Linked DNA regions of Homo sapiens. The protein of the gene in region 6 purifies or fractionates together with the protein of the main gene of each other region. This does not show direct contact. Each region holds a gene or a part of one and is shown on either strand. Other genes may lie near its edges. The genes, in order: AKR1B15, IMPA2, AKR1B1, TRPM4, PGM3, GLO1 and MROH9.

The links.
Region 1: the proteins of GLO1 (region 6) and AKR1B15 fractionate together in Homo sapiens (co-fractionation; one large-scale study listed by BioGRID). This does not show direct contact.
Region 2: the proteins of GLO1 (region 6) and IMPA2 fractionate together in Homo sapiens (co-fractionation; one large-scale study listed by BioGRID). This does not show direct contact.
Region 3: the proteins of GLO1 (region 6) and AKR1B1 fractionate together in Homo sapiens (co-fractionation; one large-scale study listed by BioGRID). This does not show direct contact.
Region 4: the proteins of GLO1 (region 6) and TRPM4 purify together in Homo sapiens (affinity purification with mass spectrometry; one large-scale study listed by BioGRID and IntAct). This does not show direct contact.
Region 5: the proteins of GLO1 (region 6) and PGM3 fractionate together in Homo sapiens (co-fractionation; one large-scale study listed by BioGRID). This does not show direct contact.
Region 7: the proteins of GLO1 (region 6) and MROH9 purify together in Homo sapiens (affinity purification with mass spectrometry; one large-scale study listed by BioGRID and IntAct). This does not show direct contact.

The regions. Positions count from the first base shown.
Region 1 is NC_000007.14:134,562,290-134,566,446, forward strand, and holds part of AKR1B15 (aldo-keto reductase family 1 member B15), read left to right. Parts: intron 1-2,308; 5' UTR 2,309-2,330; coding exon 2,331-2,480; exon of another isoform or gene 2,481-3,191; coding exon of another isoform or gene 3,192-3,257; intron 3,258-4,157.
Region 2 is NC_000018.10:11,987,571-11,991,727, reverse strand, and holds part of IMPA2 (inositol monophosphatase 2), read right to left. Parts: intron 1-4,157. UniProt on the Homo sapiens protein: Phosphatase that can use myo-inositol monophosphates, myo-inositol 1,4-diphosphate, scyllo-inositol-1,4-diphosphate, glucose-1-phosphate, beta-glycerophosphate and 2'-AMP as substrates in vitro.
Region 3 is NC_000007.14:134,448,788-134,452,944, reverse strand, and holds part of AKR1B1 (aldo-keto reductase family 1 member B1), read left to right. Parts: intron 1-1,191; coding exon 1,192-1,359; intron 1,360-2,042; coding exon 2,043-2,159; intron 2,160-3,147; coding exon 3,148-3,225; intron 3,226-3,825; coding exon 3,826-3,948; intron 3,949-4,157. UniProt on the Homo sapiens protein: Catalyzes the NADPH-dependent reduction of a wide variety of carbonyl-containing compounds to their corresponding alcohols.
Region 4 is NC_000019.10:49,167,792-49,171,948, reverse strand, and holds part of TRPM4 (transient receptor potential cation channel subfamily M member 4), read right to left. Parts: coding exon of another isoform or gene 4,033-4,157; coding exon 3,852-4,032; intron 3,690-3,851; coding exon 3,526-3,689; intron 3,397-3,525; coding exon 3,213-3,396; intron 593-3,212; coding exon 531-592; intron 372-530; coding exon 180-371; intron 1-179. UniProt on the Homo sapiens protein: Calcium-activated selective cation channel that mediates membrane depolarization. While it is activated by increase in intracellular Ca(2+), it is impermeable to it.
Region 5 is NC_000006.12:83,172,386-83,176,542, forward strand, and holds part of PGM3 (phosphoacetylglucosamine mutase), read right to left. Parts: intron 3,676-4,157; coding exon 3,577-3,675; intron 2,103-3,576; coding exon 1,989-2,102; intron 1-1,988. UniProt on the Homo sapiens protein: Catalyzes the conversion of GlcNAc-6-P into GlcNAc-1-P during the synthesis of uridine diphosphate/UDP-GlcNAc, a sugar nucleotide critical to multiple glycosylation pathways including protein N- and O-glycosylation.
Region 6 is NC_000006.12:38,682,462-38,686,618, forward strand, and holds part of GLO1 (lactoylglutathione lyase), read right to left. Parts: intron 2,054-4,157; coding exon 1,913-2,053; intron 415-1,912; coding exon 347-414; intron 1-346. UniProt on the Homo sapiens protein: Catalyzes the conversion of hemimercaptal, formed from methylglyoxal and glutathione, to S-lactoylglutathione. Involved in the regulation of TNF-induced transcriptional activity of NF-kappa-B. Required for normal osteoclastogenesis.
Region 7 is NC_000001.11:171,060,801-171,064,957, reverse strand, and holds the end of MROH9 (maestro heat-like repeat-containing protein family member 9), read right to left. Parts: intron 2,827-4,157; coding exon 2,764-2,826; intron 860-2,763; coding exon 618-859; 3' UTR 193-617; downstream 1-192.

The DNA.
Region 1 (4,157 bases), on a different chromosome or scaffold from region 6:
CAATGCTTCCACATCCTGTAAGGGTACCTAAGCGGGTTGCCTAAGCGTTGCTGCTGGGGGCTGGGGTGACCAGCTTTAATTCCCTTATTTGTCCCTACCCACTTCCTGTTGATTGGTCCATTTTACAGAGTGCTGATTGGTCCATTTTACAGAGTGCTGATTGGTCTATTTTACAGAGTGCTGATTGGTCCATTTTACAGAGCGCTGATTGGTCCATTATACGGAGCACTGATTGGTCCATTTTACAGAGTGCTGATTAGTCCATTTTACAAACCTCTAGCTAGCCACAGAGCACTGATTGGTGCATTTTACAATCCTAGCTACAGAGTGCTGATTGGTGCATCTTACAATCCTCTTGTAAGATAGAAAATTTCTCCGAGTCCCCACCCAACCCAGAAGTCCAGCTGGCTACACCTCTCACCACCACACCTACCTAATTTCTGTATTTTTAGTAGAGAGGGAGTATCACCATGTTGGCCAGGCTTCTTTCTTAATCTTTTCTTTTCTTTCTTTCCTTCCTTCCTTTCTTCCTTCCTTCCTTTCTCTTTCTTTCTTTCTTTCTTTCTTTCTTTCTTTCTTTCTTTCTTTCTTTCTTTCTTTCCTTCTTTCTTCCTTCCTTCTTTCCTTCCTTCCTTGCTCCCTTCCTTCCTTTACTCTCTTTCTGTCTTTTTCTGTCTGTTTTCTCTATTCCTTACTCTTCCCTCATTCCTTCCCTCCCTCCCCCAACTCTTCTTTCCTTCCTTTCTCTCTCCCTCCCTACTTTCCAACTTTGGGCTGTGTTGAATTTGTTGACTCATCGTGAACAAACAGAAACTCCAATGATACTGTTACCCAAGAGAACTTTGCAAAAGGTTGTCATGTTTAATAATTCATTCACAGAATCCTCAATCTCACAAAAGCCTGGAATGGATTTTCTGTTTGGACAGGGCAGGGAAGCTACTGTGGCCAGGCTCCAGCTCTTCCCACTGCAGCTAGCACAAGCCTTCTAAAGCAGGATGTGGCCAGGCACAGCTCATGCCTGTAATCCCAGCACTTTGGCAGGCCGAGGTGGGTGGATCACCTGAGGTCAGGAGTTTGAAACCAGTCTGTCTCTACTAAAAATACAAAAGTTAGATGGGAGTGATGGTGGGTGCCTGTAATCGCAGCTATTCAGGATGCTGAGGCAGGAGAATTGCTTGAACCTGGGAGACAGAGGTTGCAGTGAGCCAAGATCACACCACTGCACTCCAGCCTGGGCATCAGAGCAAGACTCCGTCTCAAAAACAAACAAACAAAAAGCAGTGAGAGGTGAAGCCACCTGGACTTCCTGGGTTGAGTGGAGACTTGGAGAACTTTTCTCTTTAGCTAGCAGATTGTAAAGTCACCAATCAGTGCTCTGTGTCTGGCTAAAGGATTGTTAATGCACCAATCAGCACTCTGTAAAAATGTACCAATCTTTCATCCCATCTCATCCCATCTTTCAGTCACTTCACAAATGGTTCCTAGTAGATACAAAACAGTTTTTTCTCCAATGGGAAAACAGAAAACAGCCACTCAGTTTGCTCCCAACACCCGTTTCTAGCCGCTTACCACAGCTACCTTGGCAAGTACTCTAGGAGTATGGGAAAATGAAAACGACAAACTCACACACCTTTTTAACATACACAACCAGTTCTGACTACCTAGCCAAGGCAGATTCTTCTTCTGTGGAATGTCAACCTATATCTGCCTCCCGACCAACTGGACAGGCACCTGCAACCTTAGTCTTCCTATGTCCCAACATTAACATTGCCCCAGGAAATCAGACCCTATCAGTGCCCCTCAAAACTCAAGTCCGTCAGCACAGAGCCATACAGCTAATACCCCTGCTTATAGGGTTAGGAATGGCTACTGCTATGGGAACCGGAATAGCCAGTTTATCTACTTCATTATCCTACTATCACACACTCTCAAAGGATTTCTCAGACAGTTTGCAAGAAATAACAAAATCTATCCTTACTCTACAGTTCTAAATAGACTCTTTGACAGCAGTGACTCTCCAAAACCACTGAGGCCTAGGCCTCCTCACTGCTGAGAAAGGAGGGCTCTGCATCTTTTTAGGGGAAGAGTATTGTTTTTACACTAACCAGTCAGGGATAATACGAGATGCTGCCCGGCGTTTACAGGAAAAGGCTTCTGAAATCAGGCAATGCCTTTCTAATTCTTACACCAACCTCTGGAGTTGGGCGACATGGCTTCTCCCCTTTCTAGGTCCCATGAAAGCCATCTTGCTATTACTCACCTTTGGGCCCTGTATTTTTAACCTCCTTGTCAAATTTGTTTCCTCTAGGATCGAGGCCATCAAGCTACAGATGGTCTTACAAATGGAACCCCAAGTGAACTCAACTAACAACTTCCACCAAGGACCCCTGGACCAACCCGTTGGCCCTTTGACTGGCCTAAAGAGTTCCCTTCTGAAGGACACTACAAGTGCAGGGCCCCTTCTTCGCCCCTATCCAGCAGTAAGTGGCTAGAGAGGTCATCACCCAATTCCCAACAGCAGTTGTGGTGTCCTGTTTAGATGGGGGATTGAGAGGTGAAGCCAGCTGGACTTCCTGGGTCAAGTGGGGACTTGGAGAACTTTTCTGTCTAGCTAGAGGATTGTAAATGCACCAATCAGTGCTCTGTGTCTAGCTAAAGGATTGTAAATGCACCAATCAGCACTCTGTAAAAACGCAGCAATCAGCACTCTGTAACTAGCTAAAGGGTTGTAAATGCACCAATCAGCACTCTGTAAAATGGAACAATCTGCAGGATGTGGGCAAATAATGGAATAAAAGCTGGCCACCCCAGTCAGCAGCAGCAGGGAACCGCTCAGATACCCTTCCACACCGTGGAAACTTTGTTCTTACCCTCTTGACGAAAAATCTTGCTGCTGCTCACTCTTTGGGTCCACACCACCTTTAAGAGCTACAACGATCACCACGACAGTCTGCGGCTTCATTCTTGAAGTCAGCGACACCACAAACCCACCAGAAGGGAGAAACTCCAGACACATCTGAAGGAACAAACTCCAGACACAACATCTTTAACAGCTGTAACACACACTGTGAAGGTCCACGGCTTCATTCTTGAAGCCAGCGAGACCACGAACCCTCTGGAAGGAACCAACTCTGGACACAGCAGGACGTGAGACTTCTACCTGCTCACTCAGAATCATTTCCGCACCAACCATGGCCACGTTTGTGGAGCTCAGTACAAAAGCCAAGATGCCCATTGTGGGCCTGGGCACTTGGAGGGTAAATATGCAAATCTTTGCACAACTTTCTTCTCTGGAGGGCTGTTTGGGTGTTTTCTCTTTCTACATTCAGCCAGAAAAGCCTGGAGGTCGGGTAGGGGTTTGGAGAGGTGAATTTCAGTCCTGGAGCTGGGACTCGGGTTGCTTTCTTTTCTCAAAGCTGATTCAAGCTGCAATGCTGCAAGACTGGCTTTCCCAGCAGTGATGAGAACTCCTCTAGCAAGTATCAAATTTCAAGCAGAGTTGGACTTAAAATTGTTTTCCAGGGCAGTTTCTCTCTCTGGCTCTAGGACACTTAATTGGGCACAAGGTTTCCCCAGAGTCTTGGCTGTGGGTTTGTTGTGGGCTGGGTGGTTGTGGAGAGGATGCAGAGCCAGAAGTCCCTGGCACCACTTTGCAGATCACCATGTGGGACTTGGGCTAGCAGCATCCCTATGACCTGGGAGCTTGTTAGACATGCAGAACTGGCTGGGTGTGGTGGCTCATGCCTGTAATCCCAGCACTTTGGGAGATCCAGACGAGAGGACTGCTTAAGCCCAGGAGTTGGAGACCAGACTGGGCAACATAGCAAGACCCAATTTCTACAAATAATCAATAAATTAGCTGTGCATGGTGGCATGCAGCTGTAGTCCCAGCCACTTGGGAGGCTGAGGTGGAGATTGAGTGTTGAGCCTGAGAGGTCAAGGCTGCAGTGAGCAGTGATTGTGCCACTGCACTCCAGTCTGGGCAACAGAGTGAGATCCCGTGTAAGAGAAAGAAAGAAAGAGAAAAAATGCAGAGTCTCAGGCTTCACCCAGGCTACCTAACGGGCATCTGCACTTTAACAAGTTCCCTAGGTGGTTCCTGTACACATTGAAATCTGCAACATGCTGGGACTGCAGAGAGCCTGGGCTGGGAGTCG
Region 2 (4,157 bases), on a different chromosome or scaffold from region 6:
CTCCCCCAAGTAAGAGGGGGTTCTCCGCAAATGGCCTTGGGACTCTGTCCACATGAACAACTCTTCCTGCCCTATGGCCTTCAAACTGGAACATCAGCTGTCTCTCCGCGTCTCCAGCTGCCAGCCCACCCTGCAGACTGGACCCACCCACCTCCTGCCGGTCCTGTTTCTCTGAAGAACCTGATACGTGTGACAATCAATAAAACCTAACAGTTCATCGGGTACCCAGGTAATAACACGCCTATCACATGGTGTCATGTGGCACATGTGGTCAGCAGTTCACAGCTGTTGATGCGTCACAAATCTCTGTACAACCTCAACCCTGGGAGGAAGAGGAGGAGCTGGTCCAAGCAGACGTGGCTCCCAGGCCAGCCCACCTCAGGCTCTCGAATCCTCAACGCCTCCTTTAGTCTCGTGGCTATTTTTCCCCTCACCTTGATCTCTAGTCGCCCTCCGCCCTGACAAGGCACTGGCACCTTCCATACCAATGCCAGCAGCCACCCGTCACCCACATCCCAGCTGCATTCCCTGTGTTCCAGGGCCCGTGGCCTGTGGCCCCTGCCTCCCCTCGTGGCTTTCCTCCTATCTCCCCACCATTCTGCGGCTCATCTCCCTCCCACTATTCCTTGAAAGTGGGTGTTTGCAAGCCCTCGGACCTGCCTTCAGCAGCTGAGCTTCCTGGAGATGGCCTCCACCTCACACCCTGCCCAGCTCCACGGCCTGAGCTCAAGCTTACAGAGCGCTTCTTCTGCCCCGTGCTGTTCTGAGCAGTTCACATGTACATTTATTCCACACAGTAACTCTGAGGACAGCAAAAATTATTCTCCACGTTAAAGATGAGGAAACGGAGGCAAAAAGAAATGGAGAAAGTTGCCCAAGGCCCTGCAGCTGTAAGGTATAGGGAAGGGGTTCCCAGCACCACAGTCCAAGTCCACCATCGCTAAACAGAGCCGACCCCACGGCTGGAGCCGTCACAATTGATTACTTCCTAATCCCTCTCCAGCTCACATTTCTCTCAAAAGCAATGAGAGCCAGCCAGCTGCATGAGCCAGAAACCCAGAAGTCCTTTATTCCTATGTCTCCTTCAATGTACGACTCATCAAGTCCACCCCAACTCACAGCCCCCAAGGGCCACACCCCATCAGTTCGAGCAGGACACCCACCTGCAATTCTGCCCTCCACACGGGGCCCCCAAGTCCTGACCTCTCCCACCTCAAACTTTAGCCAAAGTGCATTTCTTGGAGGTCCTTGGTGCTATGTTCTCTTTTGCCCCTTCTGCTTTCATCTTCTCTATTGGCCCCGACCCCTCCTCTTCTCTCTCCCCTCCCCAAGCCCATCACCTAACCTTCCTAGCTGACTCCTGCTTTTTTTCTAAAGACACACTCAGCTGTGACTTCTTCCAGGAAGCTGTCCACATCCCAGGTGCTGGGATGGCCTCCCAGTCCGCCTGCACACTGCAGTGACTGGCCAGGTCTGCACCTCCTCCATCTCTCACATGAAAGGTGAGCCCAGGGGCAGGGCGCCAGCCTGCAGAAGGCCTCCTGCAGCGCTCATGGCAGGCTAGGGCAGAGCTGGGACAACGGACACAGGATCCTGAGACTGGCTCAGCCTAGAGACCAAAGCCTTCCCTCACTCCCACAGAAGAGAGAAGACGCAAACCAGGCTCCAGGCTCCTGTCTCCACTGGGCCCAGGAGGAGGCCAGGAGAGAGGGAGGGGCCTAGACTCCGGAACTCCCCTCTCCTTCTCAATGTCTCAGCTCCCCATGCCTTTGAGCTCCTGCCTTCCTCCACCCCTAAAGCTCGAGGAGGGGGCCTGTATCTCACTAGCAGCCTCTCCATCCTCTGGCTGAGTGATTTCACCCACCCTCCTGCCCCAAACTCCAAAGACAGTAATCTCCCCTGGGCAGCGCTTCATTGGGGTGAGCAAGTGACAAGCTCAGGGCCACAGAGTCCAGGACTCACTCTCCCCGTGGGGATGAGCCATCTACCAGCCTCTCCTTAAGGGGGCACAGGTGGGACCTCACTGGCACCCTGGAGTGCCAAGGGCTGGGATGAGGCTGCCCAGAGGCAAGGGCAGTGCCTTCTGCCCTCCCCCTTCTTCTGAGACAGCTTTTGTTAGCAAAATGGGTAGGAAATGATAGGGACCTCTCAGATAGGGTCAGGAGCAGTGGGCCTCGGACCCTTGGAGACCATGTACCGACCCCCACCCCACCAAAGGGACAGCTGCTACTCTGTGCCTGCCAGCTGCTGTCTCACAGGAATTCTGTCTCTGCTGATGTTTGAAATGTTGTTGAGTTTTCGAATTTCTCACGTAGGCTGACCCCACCCTGCAGAGCTAAGCAAACACTGCAGGTGTGGACCAGGCGAGGCAGGAGCTGGAGGCCATCACCACCGCCTCCTCTCCCCCTCCTGCCTCCTCTTCCTCCAGCGACAGGTGCGCTCAGCCCAGGCAGGAAGAGCAGGGAAGCCTTTTCTGGAGAAATGAACCACTTCAGAAATGACCTCCACAAACTGGCATTTGTGAGGCTCCCAAGGAGGAAAATGGGAGCCTGACCTGAGCTCATCCGACGGCAAAGCCCATCAGTGGCCAAGCCTGCTCTCCTCCTGTCCGGGACATGGCCCTAAATACCATCTCCAGGAATATGACTTCCACACTGCATCTCTGCCGTCAGCTTGGGTGCAAATCCAACATCTCCACTTAGTGAAACCCCGTCTGTACAAAAAATTAAAAAATACATATTATCCAGGCATGGTGACACATGCCTGTAGTCCCAGCTACTCAGGAGGCTGAGGTGGGAGAATCACTTGAGCCCAGGAGGTAGAAGCTGTGATTGCACCACTGCACTCCAGCCAGGGAAACAAAGCGATACCCTGTCTCAAAAAAATAAAATAAGAAATCTACTGGCAATTCGAGCTTAACCTGCACAGAAGAGAACACTCGACTCTCAGCTCCAAACCTGTTCCTCCTGCAGTTTTGCCATCTCGGAAAGTGGCAAATCCATTCAACCAGCTTTTCAGGCCTAAACCCCTGAAGTCACCCTTGGCTCCTCTCTTTCTCTCACACCCCACATCCAACTCAGAGGCTGTCATCTCAGCCTCCAAAGTAAATCTTCTTCACCACCTTCTTCATGCACCCCAGTCAAATCCACCCTCATTTCTCACGTGGCTTCCTATCAGATACCTGATTCTGGTCTCCCTAGTGTCCCACAAAGGACCTCATGCAGCAGCCAGGGTGGTCCCCTATATAGAGTCCTATAAAGCCCCACACAAGACTCTGCCCCAAACCTCCCCTCACATTCAGAGTAAAAAGGCTAAAGTCCTTTCCTGAGTTGTTAATGATTCTTTGTTGGATGAATAAATTTATAATCAATGTGTTATTACCATCATTTTAAAAGCAAATAATATCAAAGAAGCCAATAAACAGCTGGGCACAGTGGCTCACGCCTGTAATCCCAGCACTTTGGGAGGCCAAGGTGGGTGGATCACATGAGGTCAGGAGTTTGAGACTGGCCTGGCCAACATGGTGAAACCCCATCTCTACTAAAAATACAAAAATTAGCCAGGCGTGGTGGCACATGCCTGTAATCCCAGCTACTCGGGAGGCTGAGGCAGGAGAATTGCTTGAGCCCGGGAAGCGGAGGTTGCAGTGAGCTGAGATCGCACCACTGCACTCCAGCCTGGGCGACAGAGCAAGACTGTGTCTCAAAAAAAAAAAAAAAAAAAAAAGCCAATAAACATGTGCATTTAACTTCATTAATTATCTAAGAAACGCAAATTAAAACTACAATAAAATACCAACTCAAGCCCATCAGAATGGCTACAATATAAAAGACAGACCATACCACATGTTGTGGAAGACGTGGGGAAAAGGGAACCCTCACACACTGCAGGGTGGAGTGTAACTTGGTACATCCTCTTTAGAGAACTACTTGGCAGAATTTACATTCCCAATGACACAGCGATTCTACTCCTACTATTAATAAATCCCCAACAGAAATGCACACATAATCAAAAGACATGTGCAAGAAAGTTCACAGCAACGTTACCCGTATTAACTTCAAACTGGACATTATCCAGTTTGCTCAAGAGTTGAATGAGGCCAGGCGCAGTGGCTCGTGCCTGTAATCCCAGCACTTTGGGAGGCCAAGGCGGGTGGA
Region 3 (4,157 bases), on a different chromosome or scaffold from region 6:
GGGTCGTCCCCTCTTAACCCACACCTTCGATGAGCATCCCCACCCTGCCTCGCTGCTCCCTCTGAGGTGGAGAGTGAGCTCCATGCTAACAGGCTCTGGTAACGGGCTTGTTCAACTGGGCCCCTTTCTTCCCCAAAGCCTGTTGAAAATAGCTGATGTCAAAACACAGATGTCTGCAGCTGCTATGGCCCTGGGGGGTTTTTCTTTTCATTTGTTTCTACCCCAGCTCTCCAAAGGAATGTGCTCTGTTCATTCAACAGCCCGCTGCACATGTTTATTGCTCAGCTCTGTGATCATAGCAGGATAGTGAAAGTTGGGGGATACGTGTCCATGCAGCCTACCTGGGTGCCAGTGAAGCGCGATGCCATGTAGGCACTTCCTCCTCCTCTTCAGTAGCCAGGCTCCCCACAGCTGTTCTGGTTACTCAGATGGTCAGGTGGCTTGGCCATGGACACCCATTCAGTCATTTTGCCAGGTCAGCCACTAACCATTTGGTGATCTTCCATGATCCACATTCCCCCTCGTTTCCCTTTAACTTATTTCTCTCTGCTGATACCTCTGAGGGGCCATCTCCCGTGTCTCCACCCCTTGAAGCAGATCCTCATACAGTGAGAATTGACACATGGGCCTTTGAATAAACATCAGTGATGTGCTTAACTTCATGATAATCTCCCAGAACCGCTTGAAAACAAGCGACTGCCGGTATCAGAAGCCATGCATGAAAAGAGAGCGTAAGGGGCAGGCATTCACTGGCTGAACTGGGGAGCCACATGGGAATTGGGGTCCATAGGACATCTATTTTTGAAATATTTTGAGATATTTGAAGGAAATGGTTTCCCTTACTATCTCAGCATTCAGAGTGTGGGGAAATGTTTTTAATACAGTGGTTTGCAAATCAGTGGATGTGAAGAAGCAAGAAAATGAGATGGCTTCAGCATATCTTTTAAAAGTGATCTCACCTACACTTAAGTGGCTGTCAGATTCTCCTACAGGGCAATGCTGTGTGGCCTTTCACTTCCATCCCCCGCGTCTGAGGCTGATAGTCCAGAATGCTGCTGAGGAAGTGCACGTGGTCTGTCTTTGCTGAACAAAGTGGCAGGCTGGTCAGCAGGTATCGGTGGCTGCCACTGCCCCTCCTCCTTGCTGTGCAGACTCTGCATTCTGCGGGGCTCACGTTCTTTCTCCTTTCAGTCCCCTCCAGGGCAGGTGACTGAGGCCGTGAAGGTGGCCATTGACGTCGGGTACCGCCACATCGACTGTGCCCATGTGTACCAGAATGAGAATGAGGTGGGGGTGGCCATTCAGGAGAAGCTCAGGGAGCAGGTGGTGAAGCGTGAGGAGCTCTTCATCGTCAGCAAGGTATCGTTCCGCGGTGGGGCTGGAAGGGGCTCTCGGTCCCATCATCTGTTGGTGCATCAGCCCAAAGCCAAGTCCACACTCAATACAGCTACACTTTTCACTGATGGGCGATTCTTCCCGGGGAAACGTATCACCCACGGCCATACAGGGCTCCAGAGCTCGCCCATCCTTGGCTCTCTGTTGAATGGTCATTCCATCTGGGCCCATTGCTTAGAGTCCCGTGCTGATGAGGCTGAGGTTGTGGATTGGCCCTCCCTTTCCAGGGAGTCGCTTTCAAGGATGGAACTTGGTTCCCATCTGCAAACTGAATCTCCAGTGCTAGCCACTGTCTTTGACCTGAGATACTGATGCACAAAGGACATGAGGCAGGAGGATGGGGCTGGCTCCACAAACACCAGCCCGGGGGGAAAGTTTCGAGAGTTCTTGCTTAGGCCTAGGGCAGGCTAGCCAATCTGTCCATTCCATTTTGTGTCCTCTGGTCCTTGTAAGAGGTCTCTGTGACCTGGTCATCCTGCCTGCCTTTGGAAAGTTAGGATCCAGTACGCAGTGGAAATGCCCTCACAACCATTCACAGCATCATGGTAAAGCAAATGGGTTTTGGGGAGAGGAGACTGCTCTGTCTTTCCAGCCAGGAAGCTGCCTTGTGGCTGGCAATGATGACATGTGCCCTCTCGCTGGCTTAGCTGTGGTGCACGTACCATGAGAAGGGCCTGGTGAAAGGAGCCTGCCAGAAGACACTCAGCGACCTGAAGCTGGACTACCTGGACCTCTACCTTATTCACTGGCCGACTGGCTTTAAGGTATGGGATGCCTGGTGCAGACCAGGTCCCTTGGGGCTCAGGTGCAACCTGTGGTGTGTTTTGAGCTCCCTTAGCAGATTACGTGTGGGTGACTTTCTGTTCTTGCTGCTCAAGGTATAGCCAGTGGACCATCAGCACTGGCATCACCTGGGAGCGTCTTAGAAATCACAGTCTCGGGCCCCACGCAGGCCATTTGAATCCGCACCAGCAGTGACTCATACGCACACTTCTTCAAAGTTTGAGGAGCACTGCTCTTTGCCAGTTGGTAGATGTGCAATTTAAAACTGTCAGCAAACACAGCTGCTGTCTGTAGTGCACACAGCCATGAGGCACGGTCAGCCCTGGCCCTCCCCTCCAGGCACGTGCACACACCAACCCCCATACACATGAGTCCCTACCCACGTTCTACATGCATACCCTGTCCTGTGGAGGCCCGGTAACTATTTGCAGTCTAGTTGTTGGCACAAGAAGAACTTGAGAGTTACTTTGTCTTTTGCCTTTTTTCTAGCCACTGCCTCAGTTTTCTGCTGTGAGCCAGGTTCAAAGTGTGGGTTTAGCTTTATCCCGTAGCCCTGTTTTATTGCACCACAGCATATCAGGGCTGAAGGGACTTGACTTTTATCTTTTGATTTTAGGGGTAAGCTGGGGAGGCTGGGCCAGGTGGTAGTTTTATAGGCCAGTGACCCGCCAGGCCTTGGGCCCTGTGAGTCCTGGTCTTGAGTCCTTCCTGTATCCACACATTGCAGTCAGTGGCGGGGCTAGTCTCTGTGACCAAGTAGTGTCCATGTCTCCGTCTGACAGTCTCAGCTCCAGCCCGTTTGATAAAGAAGTGTTGGCTATCTGCCTATTTCCTTTTCATAGTGGCACACAGATTATCCCTAGCCAGCTGTGGTGGTTTAGAATTGTTTTAGATGCCAGCTTCCCCCAGCAGGTCTGTGAAGGACTATTACTGATTGTTTTGTTTGTTTGTTTTTTATTGTAATGACAGCCTGGGAAGGAATTTTTCCCATTGGATGAGTCGGGCAATGTGGTTCCCAGTGACACCAACATTCTGGACACGTGGGCGGTAAGACAGCCCCTGGTTGGACCTTGTTTTCGTGACTGGTTCCCTCTTCTTCTTAGAAGCAATCTGCCTGCCATTTCTCACATTGCATTTTGTTATTCTGTCCCTGTTGTTTGCTCTCTCTTTTTTTTTTTTTGAGTTGGGGTCTCCCTCTGTTGCCCAGGCTGGAGTGCAGTGGCACAATCTCGGCTCACTGCAAGCTCCACCTCCTGGGTTCACGCCATTCTCCTGCCTCAGCCTCCTGAGTAGCTGGGACTACAGGTGCCCGCCACCACGCCCGGCTAATTTTTTTGTATTTTTAGTAGAGACGGGGTTTCACCGTGTTAGCCAGGATGGTCTTGATCTCCTGACCTCGTGATCCGCCCGCCTCAGCCTCCCAAAGTGCTGGGATTACAGGCGTGAGCCACCGCGCCCGGCCTGTTTGCTCTTCTTATCTCATTAAAGCCAGCCTGGCTTTCGTCTCACTGTCTCTTAGCTTCTGAAAGGTCTAATTCACTGGCACTGAAGAGTGAGGGCAGGACCCGTTAAACTGGTGCAAACGACACTTCTGATCCTGTCCTTTCTGGGTTCGTTTCTGCACCACACAGACACTTTTCTCTGTAGGCCATGGAAGAGCTGGTGGATGAAGGGCTGGTGAAAGCTATTGGCATCTCCAACTTCAACCATCTCCAGGTGGAGATGATCTTAAACAAACCTGGCTTGAAGTATAAGCCTGCAGTTAACCAGGTAAACATCCCCCAACGACACTGGCATTGCAACGTTGCTGTTTTACTGTCTGATGCTGGTAGGGATTTCTCGTCCACCTCACCCAGCAAGTGGCCAGGAGGCAGCTCCTGGGTGTTGGCAGAGTCCTGAGTTATGATTCAGCATGACACAGCACATCTGGGAGAGGAAACTTACAGGAAAGAAAGAGTTTGAGCCTGGCTTGTGACGAT
Region 4 (4,157 bases), on a different chromosome or scaffold from region 6:
TGTCCAAAGGGATGGAGGAGGCCATTCCCCTCCAGGACCTAATAGTCTATATGCCCAGCACCCTCTTCTCCCGGAACCTGGAAGTCCAGGCCCCCAGCCCCTCCTCCCTCAGACCCAGGAGCCCAAGTCCCCAGTTCCCTCCCATCTCAGGATCCAGAGTTGGGCCCCCAGTGTCATACCTGGGCCTGCAGGACCTCAAGGTCCCCTTTGGGAAAGAAACGCCTGATTCGATCTCGGGCTTCGCCTTGCCTGGCTCCCCCACTCCCTGGGGCCAGAGTGTCTTCCAGGGTCTCCGCCAGGCAGTCCGCAGCTCCCCCTGAGCCAGCCACGAGGAGACATGGGAGCTGAGCCTGGGTGGCGTTCTCTATTCGCTACAGGATAAAGGCATTCTTTATTCATCACGTCAGAAAAGGCAGGATATTCACCCTACCCGGAGTCAGACCCCCAGACCCTCCCTAAGACTCAGGACCCAGGAGTCCTGGCCCCCAACCCTCCTTCCCCCTTAGATCCGGGCATCCGGGCCCCTATACCGTCAACATCTTCTCATCACCATCAATCAGGAGGAGCAGGACAGGGATGTCAATTCCAGTCCCTGAGGCAAGAAGAGAAGGGGGCTTGATTACCTCCCATCAGCCTTTGCTGGAGATAGGAGAAAACCGCATTTCCCAGGAGTCGGCAAACATCAGCCTTGTCCTAATCTTCTGTTCAGAGGCTCATTGGAATTGTCATTTCTTTTTTTACTTAATTATGTATTTATTTTAGAAATGGGGGTCTTGCTATGTTGGCCAGGGTGGTCTCGAACTCCTGGCCTCAAGCAATCCTCCCAACTTGGACTCCCAAAGTGCTGGGATTATAGGCATGAGCCACCGCATCAGCCTAATTTCTGAAACAGGGTGTCACTCTATCGCCCAGGATAGAGTGCAGGGGCATGATCACACCTCACTACATCTTGATCCTCCTACTTTAGCCTTCTAAGTAGCTGGGACCACAGGCACACACCACCGTGCCCAGCTAACTTTTTAATTTTTGGTAGAGACAGGGGTCTTGCCATCTTGCCCAGGCTGGTCTCGAATTCCTGGACTCAAGGGATCCTCCCACCTTGGCCTCCCAAAGTGCTGGGATTACAGCTGTGAGCCAGCGCGCCTGGCCAGAATTGTCATGTCTTTGGACACTTCAGGAGGGAGCTAGATTTTGAAGACAGTAATGCTTAACTTCCCCAGGGAGGAGGGGGCTGAGGACCTAGACTCCTGAGTCCCTGAATGAGGCAGGTGTTTCTTGTATGAGTCAATCCTGTCATTGATTAACCATCCAGGAGCCAGAGGGAGTGAAAGTTCAAATAGAAAGTAAAGGAAATGGGAATAGAAAGGGCTATCTAACCACAATATAGATATTTACCAAAATCCAATTGCACCATAAAGATAGCACTATATCGACTCTACTTCCATTAAAATTAGAAACTAGGCCAGGTGCGGTGGCTCATGCCTGTAATCCCAGCACTTTGGGAGGCCGAGGCGGGTGGATCACCTGAGGTCAAGAGTTCAAGACCAGCCTGGCCAACATGGTGAAACCCCGTCTCTACCAAAAATACAAAAATTAGCTGGGAGTGGTGGCTCGTGCCTATAGTCCCAGCTACTCGGGAGGCTGAGGCAGGAAAAACGCTTGAACCTAGGAGGCAGAAGTTGCAGTGAGCTGAGATCACGCCACTGCACTCCAGCCTGTGCACAGAGCAGGACTCCCTCTCAAAAAAATAAATAAATAAATTAGAAACTAGACCACATTACCACTAACACTGTATTCATCCTGGAGTTTTGAGCTAACTCAATAATGCAAAAAAATGAAATCACTGAAGTGAAAATTGATTTTTTGGTTTTTGGTTTTTTGTAAAGCTGGAAGGGACAAAAGTACCTATTTGAAGAAAACATGGCTTGTATTCCCAGAAAATTGGAAAACCCCACCAAAAATAAAAATAAAGATCAATAAGAAAATTTGGTAAGAGGATTGATACAAGAAAAATACACAAAAATCAAAAACTTTCCTCAAACCTAGTAATGTATCTTGTTCATGTTTTGATAAAATTATAAGATATTGGCTGGCTGGGCGCAGTGGCTCACGACCGTAATCCCAGCACTTTGGGAGGCTGAGGCAGGTGGACCACTTTCGACCACGAGTTTGAGGCCACCTGGGCTGCATGGCAAAACCCTGTCTCTACAAAAAACTTTAAAAATTAGCCGGAGCCAGGTGCAGTGGCTCACGTCTGTAATCCTAGCACTTTGGGAGGCTGAGGTGGGCGAATCACTTGAGGTCAGAAGTTCGAAAACAGCCTAGCCAACAAGGTGAAACCTCATCTCTACTAAAAATACAAACATTAGGCCGGGCGCGGTGGCTCACACCTGTAATCCCAGCACTTCGGGAGGCCAAAGCAGGCAGATCACAAGGTCAGGAGATCAAGACCATCCTGGCTAACACGGTGAAACCCCGTCTACTAAAAATACAAAAATTAGCCGGGTGTGATGGCACGTGCCTGTAATCCCAGCTACTCAGGAGTCTGAGGCAGGAGGCTGAGGCAGGAGAATTGCTTGAACCCAGGAGGCAGAGGCTGCAGTGAGCCGAGATCGCGCCACTGCACTCCAGCCTGGGCAACAGGGCAAAACTCCGTCTCAAAAAAAGAAAAAAATGCATCAAGCTGTCCACCTTCGTGCATTTTTCTGTATGTATGAGAAATTTCAAAATAAAGTCTGTTTGTTTGTTTGAGATGGAGTATTGCTTTGTCGCCCAGGCTGGAGTGCAGTGGCTTGATCTCGGCTCACTGCAACCTCCACCTCCCGGGTTCAAGCAGTTCTCTCACCTTAGCCTCCCAAGTAGCTGGGATTACAGGCACACGACACCACACCTGGCTAATTTATTTTTTATTCTTTATTATTATTATTATTATTATTATTGGTAGAGACAAGGTCTTGCTCTGTTACCCAGGCTGGTCTTGAATTACTGGCCTCAAGCAATCCTCCTACCTCGGCCTCCCAAAGTGTTGGGATTACTGATGTGAGCTAACTCACTCTCAGACAGAAGTTTTTAAAACCATGAATAATGACGGGGAAAGACACTTAACCATAGGTAATTCCCCAAATCTCGACCAGACCAAACTACTGGGATCCTGAGCGCTGGGGTTGCAGGTTGTGGGTCGTGGGTTGTGGGTCATGGGTTCGACCACTCACCTCCCACGCCCGTCTTCTGCTGTGAGATGTAGGACTCCAGGCGCAAGCGGAAGCGGTTCTCGCCCCCCAGGCAGCCGTGTGTGCCGTCGTCCACCAGGAAGAAGGCCGAGTAGTTGTAGTCCAGGGGAAACTGGACCCCGTCCTCCGGGTCACCGCGCCACCGGTACCTCGCAGGGAACGAGCCCTAGGGGAAAAATGGCCAGACCAGGGCGTCTCCTCATCGGGGCCAGAAGGACAAACACGAGCCCCTCCTCCTCCCTCAGACCCAGGAGTCCAGGCCTCCAGCCCCCTTTTCCAAGTCCCTGGGTCACACCTTGGGGTTGATGAGGGTGTCTCTATTCCGGACCACACCCCAGGGGGCCACACCCATGGCCACCACCTTGGTGCCCCCAGTGCTGGCCATCTGATGGTCCCGTACAGCCACACCAACATGCCGGCCGATGCCCGTGTGCAGACCCCCAGTGACAATCCAGGCTCCTACACAGACGCCGAGGAACATGCAGAGGCAGGGGGAGAGAAACAAAGAATAAGACAGAGACACACACACACACTGGGCGGCGGGGGAGGCCACCCACAGTCGTGGGGGAGATGGCAGGCAGGCCGAGGCCCAGGAGACAGCCCCCACCCACCCTCGGTCACCTGTGCTCTGGGCAGCCCGCACCAGCCCACGACGCAGCAGGTCCTGCAGCCAGGTCTGGAGGACGGGGCCCCCCGATCCCCCCAGCACTGACACCACCAGGTTCGGGGCACGGAAGCCCCATGTGCGTGTGACCAGACTATAAACTGCAGCTGGATCCGTTCGGTCAGAGAGCCGGAGGAACTGTGGACACATGGGAGCGGGGCACACAGGGAGGGGGACAGAGACCCAGAGAGACGGGGACAGAGACCCAGAGAGACGGGGACAGAGACCCAGAGAGACGGGGACAGAGACCCAGAGAGAGAGGG
Region 5 (4,157 bases), about 44 Mb from region 6:
CTGGGCAACATAGCAAGACCTTGTCTCTTAATAAAAAACAAATGCACTCCTGACCTCACTGTCAGGAATTTGAAACCAGCCTGGCCAACATGGTAAAACGCCATCTATACTAAAAATACAAAAATTAGCTAGGTGTGGTAGTGGGCGCCTGTAATCCCATCTACTCGGGAGGCTGAGGCAGGAGAATTGCTTGAGCCCGGGAGGCAGAGGTTGCAGTGAGCCAAGATTGCGCCACTGCACTCCAGCGTGGGCAACAGAGCGAGACTCCATCTCAAAACAAAACAACAACAACAACAAAAAAAACCCACTAAAGGCAGGCCCGCAGTTCATTCAGCATCCCCAAGGGAAAAAGACCCTCTCAGCCTCCTTCAGCTATGATACATCGTTTCCATGCATGCCAGATATGTATCATATTTTTTACTATTAAAATACTTGTGTGTGAATAAGTGTAAAAAAATGATTGATTGCTTATTGATTGATAGCATATAAATTCAGAGTTTTAGGAATGATGGTGATGCCAGACAACCACAGATTGTCCAACGGGTGGCTGACAGAGTGACACCTTTGCTTTCTGATGGTTCAGTAGACACAAACTTTGTTTCATGCACTAAATTTACAGTATTCTATAAAACCACCTTTAATCTTATGTAACATACATGAAACAAAAGAATTTAGTGTTTCCGACTTGAGTGCCATACCCAAGATGTCACATTATATATATGCAAATATCCCAAAATCCAGTGAATCTGGAACCCAAAACACTTCTAGTCCCATGCATTTTGGATAAGGGATACTCAGCCTATATCATGTGCTTTCTCACATGCAGCATGATTAAATGAAGTGTTTTTGTGGATGGATAAAATACGAACAATGAGGTGAAGATCTCTGTGGAAGACAATGAAAGGTATAACAAAGAATACTGAAACTAGCTCTTGAGAAACTTGCCTTTAGTACTCCTTATTTATAAAATGAAATTAGACTGGATAACTCTAAGGCTCAGCCTAACATTCCATCACTCATTTTTCTTTTTATAAATAGATCCCTTTTGAGATATTACCCCACAATGATTGATAGAAAGCATCAAGGTAAAATGGAGAAATATGAGCTTTGGTATAAGATATAACTGAAGATAAATCTCTGTTTCTTCACTTATAAAATGGAAATTACAGTAACACCTCTCCCTGTGTTACTGTAAGGATTACACAGCAAGGTATATAAAGTGTCCAGTGTGTGCAAGACACTCAAATAATTGAATCGCTTTCCTCTACCCTGAGTACTGCTTTTCCATAGCCAAACGACACTCCAACCCCAACTAACCCACATGTATGTCCTTTGTCAATGAGACAACCAGTTATTTGTGTTTGTTTTTGAGACAGAGTCTCGCTCTGTCACCCAGGCTGGAGTGCAGTGGCGTGATCTTGGCTCACTGCAAGCTCTGCCTCCCGGGTTCACACCATGCTCCTGCCTCAGCCTCCCGAGTAGCTGGGACTACAGGTGCCCGCCACCATGCCCGGCTAATTTTTTGTATTTTTAGTAGAGACGAGGTTTCACCCTGTTAGCCAGGAGGGTCTCGATCTCCTGACCTCGTGATCCGCCCTCCTTGGCCTCCCAAAGGGCTGGGATTACAGGCATGAGCCACCGTGCCTGGCCTGACAACCAGTTATTTTTACTTAATTTCATCGAGGTTTGGTTAAAAAAAAATTAATAATATATATGTATACACTGAGTAGCTGAATCTGTGATCCTAGGTAGAAGCTACCCAATATACTTGAAAATTTCCATCATAAGAGGTAGGGGAAGGGAAGCATATTAAAAAATGTTCTGTCATTCCATTTCATTATAAATCTCAACTGAATATACCACTATTAGAAGGAAGCCACCAGGCCAGGACGTCTCCACTTTAATTTTGTATGCACCCACACTCTGTTCTGTCCATCTTCTGAATAATGTAAAGGTAACCAAGAGTCCACTGCCCCATCAGTTCTGACCTGGTTAAACAAGTCAATAATGTTTTCAAGCATCTTAGCAGCTTTTCTTTTCTTATCTTCCAGTTGTTCTGCTGATTGTTTTATCTTCATTTCAACAGCTGTACTAAACAGTGCCTGCAGCAAAAGAATATAAAATCAGTCTCAAAACACTATCCAAAACCTAGTCATAAGTACTATTATTCTAGCTAACCCACTTTTCCCTCCTAGTCAATCTGGAGAAACTGAGGGGAAAAATAGTGGCAGCCTTAAAATGTATGAAATTAATGTAAGATCACATTAAAACCCAGAGGATAGTACTAGGGGAAAAATTTTATTTGCGGATTATATAACTGGTTATAAAAATTTAAACATCTGATTACAAAGAAAACACCACCTTGACAAGAGGCAAGCACACACAGTAAGTTCATGTTTTCCCTTTAACCAGCTAAATCATTTCTGTGCAACCAGGTTACTTAGAGCCTGTCTGTATCCTTTTTACTTTGAAGGATATAATTCATTGCAGCTAGTATAGTTTTATTCTAAAACTTAAGGGGATGAGCTAGGCAAAATTAAGAGTTCATAGTATTCATCAAAATATGGCAAATAATGTCATGGATAGTCATTACAATATATAATTCATCATGCTCCTCAAGAGTCTTATCTCATTTGGAAATACTCATCTTTTTTACTGCCTTCTAGAGGCCTAATACTGAGCAAGATTAGCATACTATGCTCAACTACTTGATGAAATACATTTTTCTTGATAAAATAAGGCACAGGCTAGTCACCTGTTTTTGTAAAGTTTTACTGGAACACAACCACACAGATTCATTTAAGCTAGATCAGCAGAGTTAAACAACTGTAAGAGACCTTATGGCCTGAAAATCCAAAAATATTTACTCTCTACCCTTTAGAAAATAATTTACCAACTTCTCCATTCGATCACTAAAGTTATATCTTAATTGCATTTTGTAGGAACTTATTTTTCCCCTTTTTATATTTATGCCCTCCAAAAGCCAATTTTAAATTAATGAGGAAAATTATTTGGCTTTGATTCAAATGTTCTGATAGCCACCTCAAGTGTATTCATTAAATGAGGTGAGTATAAAAACATTTTAAAAATATTCTGAACATTATGAATCTACAAAAAACTAAATTATACACTTTAAAATGTAATTTTATGTAAAATGTAAATTGAAACATTTTATGCCTATCACTAGTTACCTTAAATTCATTTTCATTTCTTATTAATTATCAACTTTCCAACACTTTGCAATTCACCATAGCGACTGAATTTTTCTTTTCCTCTCCTATGGCCAGCCGGAAAATGCATAGACAACATACTTATAAAAAAATTAAGAACTGTAAATTTTAAAAAACTATTCAAAACACCTTAGTATATCTCTTCACATTCAAAGAAGAATCATTACCATGTAAAAGAGAATCACAGTTTCATAATACATCAATATATAAGATAACCAAAGGATCTTTTTGTCACATCCAATTATTTCAACAAAGTACAATATTACCTATTATTACCTCCCAGATATAGAAGTCTCATCATAAAGAAAAGTGCCAGCTAAGGCCAACTATAATTAAGAGAACTTACAGTGCCATGCCCATTTGCTTCAAAATAAACTCCAATGTCAAACTCTTGAGCCTTGTGGTGCAAATGTTTTACACCAGTCTTAGTGCAATAGACAGGTACCTATAACACATGCATTTAAAGAAATACAGCAATTACTCAGATGTCAAATGTTTCTTGCATACCTAGTATCCCAGAGATACAAAGGGGAACAAAATACTGGGGCCGAGTCCAGTGAGGAAGACGATTAAGCATTAAAATACAAAATGGTACGTATACAATGGAAGCATGAACACACTCTGGAAGCACGCAGCCAAGGGTAAAGCACGGTGAGAGAGATGAGGGTCTCCTTATAAGACACGAAAGATTACAAGTGGGGGCGTGACATGACCTAACTGTTTTAGAAAGCTGTTTAGCTACAGTGTGGAGAATAGCTTAGAGCAGAATTGCAAGCTTTTTCTGTAACAGGCCAGACAGTAAATATTTTAGGCTTTGCAGGCCATATGGTCTCTGTCACAATTACTCTGCCATTACAGTGCAAAAGCAGCCACAGACCATACATAAACAAATCAACATAGCTCTATTCCAATAAAACTTTGTTTGCA
Region 6 (4,157 bases):
TCATCTTGATTGAGAGACTGGAGATCAAGGCAGAAGTGTATGTGCTAGCAGAAACTGGGATTAGTATTAACTACAGCTTTTTTAAAAAAAAAAGTCTACTGGAAATTAATTCTGAGACTTAAAAGTAAATCATGGTGAGATGGTAAGTGTAATTTTAGATCGAGACTCTGAAATTAAACAACTCCTAAATAAGATTATTTGTGGAAAATAAAAATAATCATATCTCTAATAAATTGATCATACTTAATTAGGACATTAATGTTTTAGGTTTATTAAAATCATAATTATATACATAATACAAAATCACACAAATCTACATATATCACATAAAAACAGGCAAACTTACCGAATCCTCGAGGGTCTGAATTGCCATTGTGGTAACTCTGGGTCTCATCATCTTCAGTGCCCCAATTGCTACAAAAGGAAGGAAAACATAGCTACAATGTCCTAGGGAATAGATATTCTGAAAAGCAAGTAACATCTTTGAAATCTTACCACGTTTATATGCTACTTTACATAATTGGCCTAACCCCTGCTACAAAAATATTAAGTTTTCAACTATAGAAAGGACAAATGGCCAAAGTATGATTTTAACGAGACTAAAGAGACAGTAAATACAGGTACTGGACAAGAACAATAATAAGAATAATAATAATGCTCATTTATTGTGCTAAGTACTTTATATTTCATTTAAACCCTTAAAACAGCTCCATGGGCTAGGTGTGAACATCTCCATTCTATTGATGAAACTGCCACTTACTTGTTTAGAGTCACAGACTCATATCTAAGCCTGCCTGATTCCAAAGCTTTATTTTGAATCAAGGGACACACGAAATCACACACTCTGAAATCAATCTCTTTTAAAGTATGCAGATAAACAATGTAAAGAAATTGCCTACATTTTTAAGTGCTCAAGTTATAAAAATACCAAATTTGAATGTTAATTATTACAAAATGGTTTGAAGAATTTTTAAAGGAACACATGATATCACATTTCTGGATCCAAAATGTAGCAAAATAATAAAAGAACAAAATTTTGGATGCTGAAAGACTAATTATAGTACCTAAAAATTAGTTAGAGACAAACAGGCAAATATCTTACAATTTCAGGGTCTTATATTCTCTTATCTAAAAGACAAATGGAGGCCGGGCGTGGTGGGTCACGCCTGTAATCCCAGCACTTTGGGCGGCCGAGGCAGACAGATCACGAGGTCAGGAGATCGAGACCATCCTGGCTAACATGGTGAAACCCCGTCTCTACAAAAAATACAAAAAATTAGCTGGGCGTAGTGGCGGGCGCCTGTAGTCCCAGCTACTTGGGAGGCTGAGGCAGGAGAATGGAGTGAATCCGGGAGGCAGAGCTTGCAGTGAGCCGAGATCGCGCCACTGCACTCCAGCCTGGGCAACAGAGCAAGACTCTGTCTCAAAAAATAAATAAATAAATAAATAAAAATAAAAGACAAATGGGCCAGGCGTGGTGGCTCATGCTTATAATCCCAGCAGTCTGGGAGGCCGAGGCGGGCGGATCACTTGAGGCCAGGAGTTTGAGACCAGCCTGGGCAACATAGTGAGACCTTGCCTCTATGCCTCTACCAAAAACAAACAAACAAAAACTAGCTGGGTGTGGTGGCACACATGTGTAGTCCAAGGTGCTCAGGAGGCTGAGGCAGGAAGACTACCTAGAAGTTAGAGGCTTCAGAGAGCCTGTCTCTAAAAAAAACACATCTCATTTGCCCAAGAACAATACAAAGATCAAAAGATGCATGAAAAACACTTCAATATATTATTAAAAATGTGAAGTCATAGGCAGATCTGGTTTGAATTATACTGGTCAGTAAACAAAACAAAAAAGATTTTTAAAAACTACCTTAAAAAATCTATAATATATATAAATATAGAAACTCATACTCACTGTGTCAGCTCAAGTGTAGCTTTTCTGGAGAGCGCCCAGGCTATTTTTTCATCTTTTTCTTTAGGGATGTCATTTTTATCCTCATAAGCCAAGAAGTAGAGTGAAAACTTCATAATGGGAAAATCACATTTTTGGATTAGCCTGCAATGAAAAAACAACAAGCCTGAATCATTAACAACAGGAAAGGCTAATTCATACTATAATCAACATAACTTAATATTCAAGTTTTACTAAAAAGAAGAGCTATATGTAGTAAGCCTATTTTAATGGAATAAGCAGGAGGAAAAATCAGTGAAAAAATATCATGAAAAATGCATCTGTAAATATTTGAAATACAAAAATGAAAACTTCTGTAATTCATCAATTCTGTAAATATAGTAACATTTAGCTGAAATTATGGTACTTGTTAATAAATAGAAACGGCTATCTCCAAAAGAGAACTGTGTTTATTTGTACTGAAAAATATAAAGAACCTTGTTGCTATTTCATATATATACACACATACAAACACATATATAAATATGTCATTCAGTTAAATAAACACATTTATTGAGTTCTTACTATGCCAAAACATCTAGGAAAGGAAATTAAGGATAGGTGGTAAGAAAGAAGGAGGAAGGACAGACTAGTATCACAGAAGACGTGAATGTCAACAGTAAGGTGGCTAACAGTATCAGATACTGTAGAAAGGTCAAACAGTATTAAGACTAAGAAAAGGTCATGAGATATGGAAAGGTCCCATGAGAGCAATGTCAGCAGAGTGGGGAAGCATCAGCTGGATTACACTGTACTGGGGAGAGAGAATGGCAGGTGAGCAGGTAAAACAGTAGCAAGCATGGCAGTGACAATGGGGAGGTAGGCGAAGGAGCAGAGGGCAAGAAATATTCTGGAACAAAGAAGACTTACGCTTCTCTGAGGGGAAAGAGACAGTAGAAGAGACTGATGGGAGAGAGAGTGAATGAATTATGAATCCTGAGGTTTTAAGAAAGATAACTGAAGTCCTGAACCTTAAATGACTTTAAATGGTATAGGATTATTTGGCAAGGAGTAAGGTGGCATGAGAATGCATATATGATTTTCTTTAGATTATTCAAAGATGACTTTGTTCATAATCAATAAGAGCAAATGGCTGTTATTGCCATATAGCAAATGGAAAGTTTCTAGAGTTCTGCTTCCAATCTTTTATTTCATTATCACTGCTATATAATAGACCTTGGCCCACTTAGATCCTTGCATTGACTTATCACAAATAAGATTTACTCTAACATGTTTATAATAAAGTATCAAACACCTCAAATACTCCAATCATGAAAAACAATCTCTGCACCTACTAAAGCAGACTACACAACCCTCATGGACCAATCAGTTGGGACTGAAGGAAATGAAACTGTTGCAACTTGCTTTTCTCAGCTGTTCAAATCTTCCAGCTTACTGTCAACTTGTACCCTATTTGGGGGCTCTGCACAGGAAGTCTACATTAGAGCCCATCAGACAATGGATACAGGTTCCAGCCCTGCCATATGCCAACTGTGGGATTTGGAGCTAGTAACTTCATCTCATTAAGCTTTGGTTTCTCCGTCTGTGAAATGGGGATAAAAGCTACCTCCTAAGACTGGTGTGAAGACTGAACAAAATAACATTTGAAGTGCCTGGCAAAAGTGTTCAATAAATCTGTTTTCATTTTGTCCTTTAAATATGTCATAAATATATTCATAATACCTTTTTCTAGAAAAAAATCACAAGAAACTGGACAGCAGTTATCTCTGGGGAGAAGAACTTGGGGAGGGAAGCTATTACTTTTCATTTTGTATTTTTCTGAACTGGTCAAATTTTCTAAATATAGACATATATTACTTAAATTTTTCTCTCAATGTGAATGGAAGTTATCTAGGCACTAAATTTAAAGATTATTTTATTATTCATGTATCTATATGCTCAAAAGCAAAATGCTCACATAACTTAGGGAAACAAATCAACAATATGACAAAATTATTTCTCAATATACCTCAGTAAAGCTGGAGAAAAAAAGAAAAATAAACATGCTTTAGAAAAATAAGTATGCTTTAGGATTGCAAGATCAGTGGATATGACCTGTTGAGCAAAAGAAAACACAGCCTAGAAAAATAGAACAGATGGTCAGTTTTAAGTAAACCCATTGGTTTTCTGAGTAGTAAGTTCTTATTATCTATAACTTTTCTGAAGTAAACAAGAGGCTAAAAGTGGCCAGAACATCAAAAGGGGTCTG
Region 7 (4,157 bases), on a different chromosome or scaffold from region 6:
CTTTTCATTCTTCTTTCTTCCTCATAGTTGTACCCACAAACTCCTCCACTTTCCCCTACACTCTTATTGCTCAATACCTGTACCCAGAACACATTTCCTTCTCCCCTTTCCCTTCTTCAAGTTCCATATCTTTTTTGTTAACACTGCCCTAGGCAGTCTTTCTCCCAGCATGATAGAAATGACCACACTATGTGTCACTAGACTGTGCCCATCCTGAGATCAGGAACCTTGTCTATATCATCCAAATGTCCCCACTGCCTAACACAGTATCTGGCACTTAGAAGGTGCTCAGTAGAGCTTCCGGACTGAATCAAGTTCCCAGAGCTTCTCATCAAACACTTTGCTTATGTTATTTTCAATTGTCTTAGTGGTTTTGATGAAATAGGGCTTCTGATCACTGTCAGACATACAGAGGCACTAGTTCTCTCAGATTTCTATATTTGAATAGAGAATTAAGAAGTAACAGTAAAAGCTTCCAGAATTTTTCAGAAAAGCATCTACAAACAGACTCAAGTTGTCAGGAGGGAAAGAAAAATCATTCTTCTTCTAAGGTCAGCTCCAAGACATTGTTGGACTTCCCATTGTTTATGAATGATGAATGTCATCATCATTCTCTTCTATAAGGCCTTATCATTCTTGACATCTTTACTGTCTGTAGGACTGTCTATCTGGCCATTGGGTGAGTTATAATTGTAAAGAGGCTTCAATTTTTTGATGTAGAATAATTTAAGCAATTTTTGGAAGTTTTGTTTAAGAGGTGCAGAGGTCAGTTTATGGGCTTTTTTCTTAAAAATATCATAGGTTATTTCAGCCAACTGTTTGATCATAGGGTCTTCATCTCGGAGCAGTCGTTCAATAACTGTAATATCAGAAGAGACTTTAGTTCAAGTTATCTCTTTCTTAGAGGCCATGAAGCTTTAATACTAAACAGCCCTGCCACCTTTCACAGAGTGCCCCCTTCTCTCCATCTCTCCTCTGCATTCCCTCTGCATTTTGTAACTTTGGCTGATAGCATTCAGGAAGTTTTATCATCTATCCCTACTAAAACCCCACATAGACCCCATTAAAAGAAAAATGGGAATATTCACTAAAAATTACCAAGGACCTTTTATGTGCTGAGCATTCTGCTAGATAACATAAACATGTATTCATATATTTAGGAAGAGGTTCATATTGGTCATAATAATGAAAAAGTTAAAATCAGTCTCAATGTTCATTAACAGGGAACTGCTTAAAAATTAGGAACATAAAATGAAATGCTACATACATATTAACATAATGTAGGCCCATATTTCTTGGCTTAGAAAGATGTTTATATTATAAAGGTAAGTGAAAAAGTTAAAAAGCAGTTATGATAGTTTAAAAAAATATATAATAGCTTTCATTCTTTAGAAATATCCTGGATAGGCCAGGCACGGTGGCTCATGCCTATAATCCCAGCACTTCGGGAGACCGAGGCAGGTGGATCTCGGGGTCAGGAGATCGAGACCATCCTGGCTAACACGGTGAAACCTCATCTCTACTAAAAATACAAAAAATTAGCCGGGCATGGTGGCATGTGCCTGTCGTCCCACTTACTCAGAAGGCTGAGGCAGGAGAATCACTGGAACCCAGGAGGCAGAGGTTGCAGTGAGCTGAGATCACACCACTGCACTCCAGCTGGGTGACAGAGGGAGACTCCGTCTCAAAAAAAAAAAAAAAAAAATCCGGGATAATACATATACCAAAATGTTAATATCATTATATCCAGATAGTGGACTGTGAGAAATTACTATTTTATTTCTCGATAAAAGAAATAGAAACAAAGGGGGAGATTTAGAAAACAGAGATGAGAAGAGCAGGATGGGGGGAATGAAAGAAGAAAATGACTGTAAGAAAGAAAGATGGAAAATTCTAGTGTTTGACATTTAGCAGGTAGTCAAATATGTGTTGAATGAATGAATGAGTGAGTGAATGAATGAATGGATGAGTGAATAAGGAAGGAAGGTAATGATGTATAAATGTAGGTCCATGAATTATAATAAATGTACTACTCTGGTGGGGGATGTCGATAATGGGGGAGGCTATGCATAGGTGAGGAGAGAAGGTACTTGGGAAGTCCCTGTACCTGCAGCTCAATATTGCTGTGAACCTGAAACTGCTCTAAAAAATAGTCTATTAAGAAAGAAAAAGGAAGGAAGGCAGCCAACTTGTTTTTATAACTCACTATTTGTAATTCTTACCCTGATGGGACGATAGACAGAGGCTAAGGGAGATTCCTAAGACCCAAACATTTTGATAGACTAATATTACCCTTCTTTAATTCCCTCCTCTGCAAATGTATTGTACATTGCTATCCACTAAAATGTGAATTCTCTGAGGGAAGAGACTGCTTTATTTGCAACTCTGTCCCTAGCAGTAAATAGTGCTGTCACGTAAACATAAGAGATGCTAAAAAATATTTGTTAGATGAATGAGTAAATGAGTTTTCAACTTTCTGAAGTTCCCAAGGGCTCTAGGATGATAGTTCTCAGACAATTAGTGGAATACATGGAGAGACTGAAACAGGGAAAGAGAGTAAGGGGAAATAGAATAGAAAGAGAAAAAACAAACCTCTTAACCCAGTCCTTTCATTGATTCTTCCGTAATTATCCAACTACTACTACCACCACCCTCTTCCTGTCTGGCCTGGCACTCTAACAGAACTCATATGTGACTAGAATTAAAAATAGTAAATGTATTTAGATTTATGCATAAAGATTTTGTTATAACCTCAATACTCACCATCAAGCATGACTTCGATTTCATCTCTAAGCAGTAAATGACCACCTGATTTTGCCAAATATCCTATGCACATAATAAAAATTAAAGTTACTGCAACATGCATTATGAAAATACATTTTCTGATGTTATCTGGCTACCTTCTTTGCTTTTTTCAAAGCAAAGCATCTCTATATTATCCTTGAGTCATCTTTTAGTACTTTTAATTATTGTCTCATAAAATTGTTTATTGAAAGATATATGAGAGTATAAATGTGCATGAATCATATTGGACAGCTCAGTGAATGACCACAAAAGGAACACACCAGGGCTACCATTTAGGTTATTAAATAGAGTTTTAGCAGCATCCTAGAAGCTTCCTTCAAGGCTCTCCCAGTCTCCTCCTCCACCTTTCAGAATATATTCTTTTGTGTCTGCTTTCCTTTGCTTCATATTACCTTTTAAGATTCAACCATGTTCTTTCATGTAGCAATAGTTTGTTCATTTCCATTGCTACATGGCAGAGGCTAGCAAATAAAGTTTTCTTGAGATACAGCCATTCACATTGGCTCATTTGTTTACATATCTATGGTTGTTTTCATCATACCACAGCAGAGTTGCAACAGAGACTATATGGTACTCAAAGTCTAAAATATTTACTATTGGGCCTTTAACAGAAAGAGTTTGCTGAACCTGCTATATACAAGTACATCTTACGAATGCATCATTTTTTAAATCCATTCTGCTGTTGATGGGCGTTTGTGTTGTTTCCAGTTTGGAGCTATTATGAATGATGAAGTTATGGGAATTCTTGTACATGAATTTTGGCAGGTATTTGTATAACTGCTGTTTGGTATATAACTAGTGGATTTACCGGGTATGCTTATGTTCCACTTCAGCGGTTACTGCTAAACAGTTATCCAAAGTGGCTGTACCAATTTTCACTCCCACAAACAGTACGCTAACATTTTCATTGCTCTATGTCCTCCGAACAATTGATACTGTTAAAATGTTTCCTTTCAGTCATCCTCATGGGTTTGGTGATAATATCACATTGTAATTTTAATTTTCATTTTTTGTTGTTAATTAATAAGATCATGTGTGTATTTACTGGCCATTTGGATGTCTTCTTTTGTGAAATGCTTATTCAGATAAGTCTCTTGCCGGTGTATATATTGAGTTATCTTTTTCTTAGTTACTTGTAGACGTTTTAAAGTTCTAAGTACTAATCTGTTTAAAATGGTGCATATCTTACAATATCTTCTCTTATCTCATGGCTAAATTTTTCCATTTGCATTTGTTTTTTAATTAACACAAACCCCTAATTTCAATGTAGTTGAACTCATCATCTTTACATTTATGGTCAGTTAATTTTGAGGTCCTGTTCAGGAAATGTTTGCTTGTCTTAAGCCATAAAG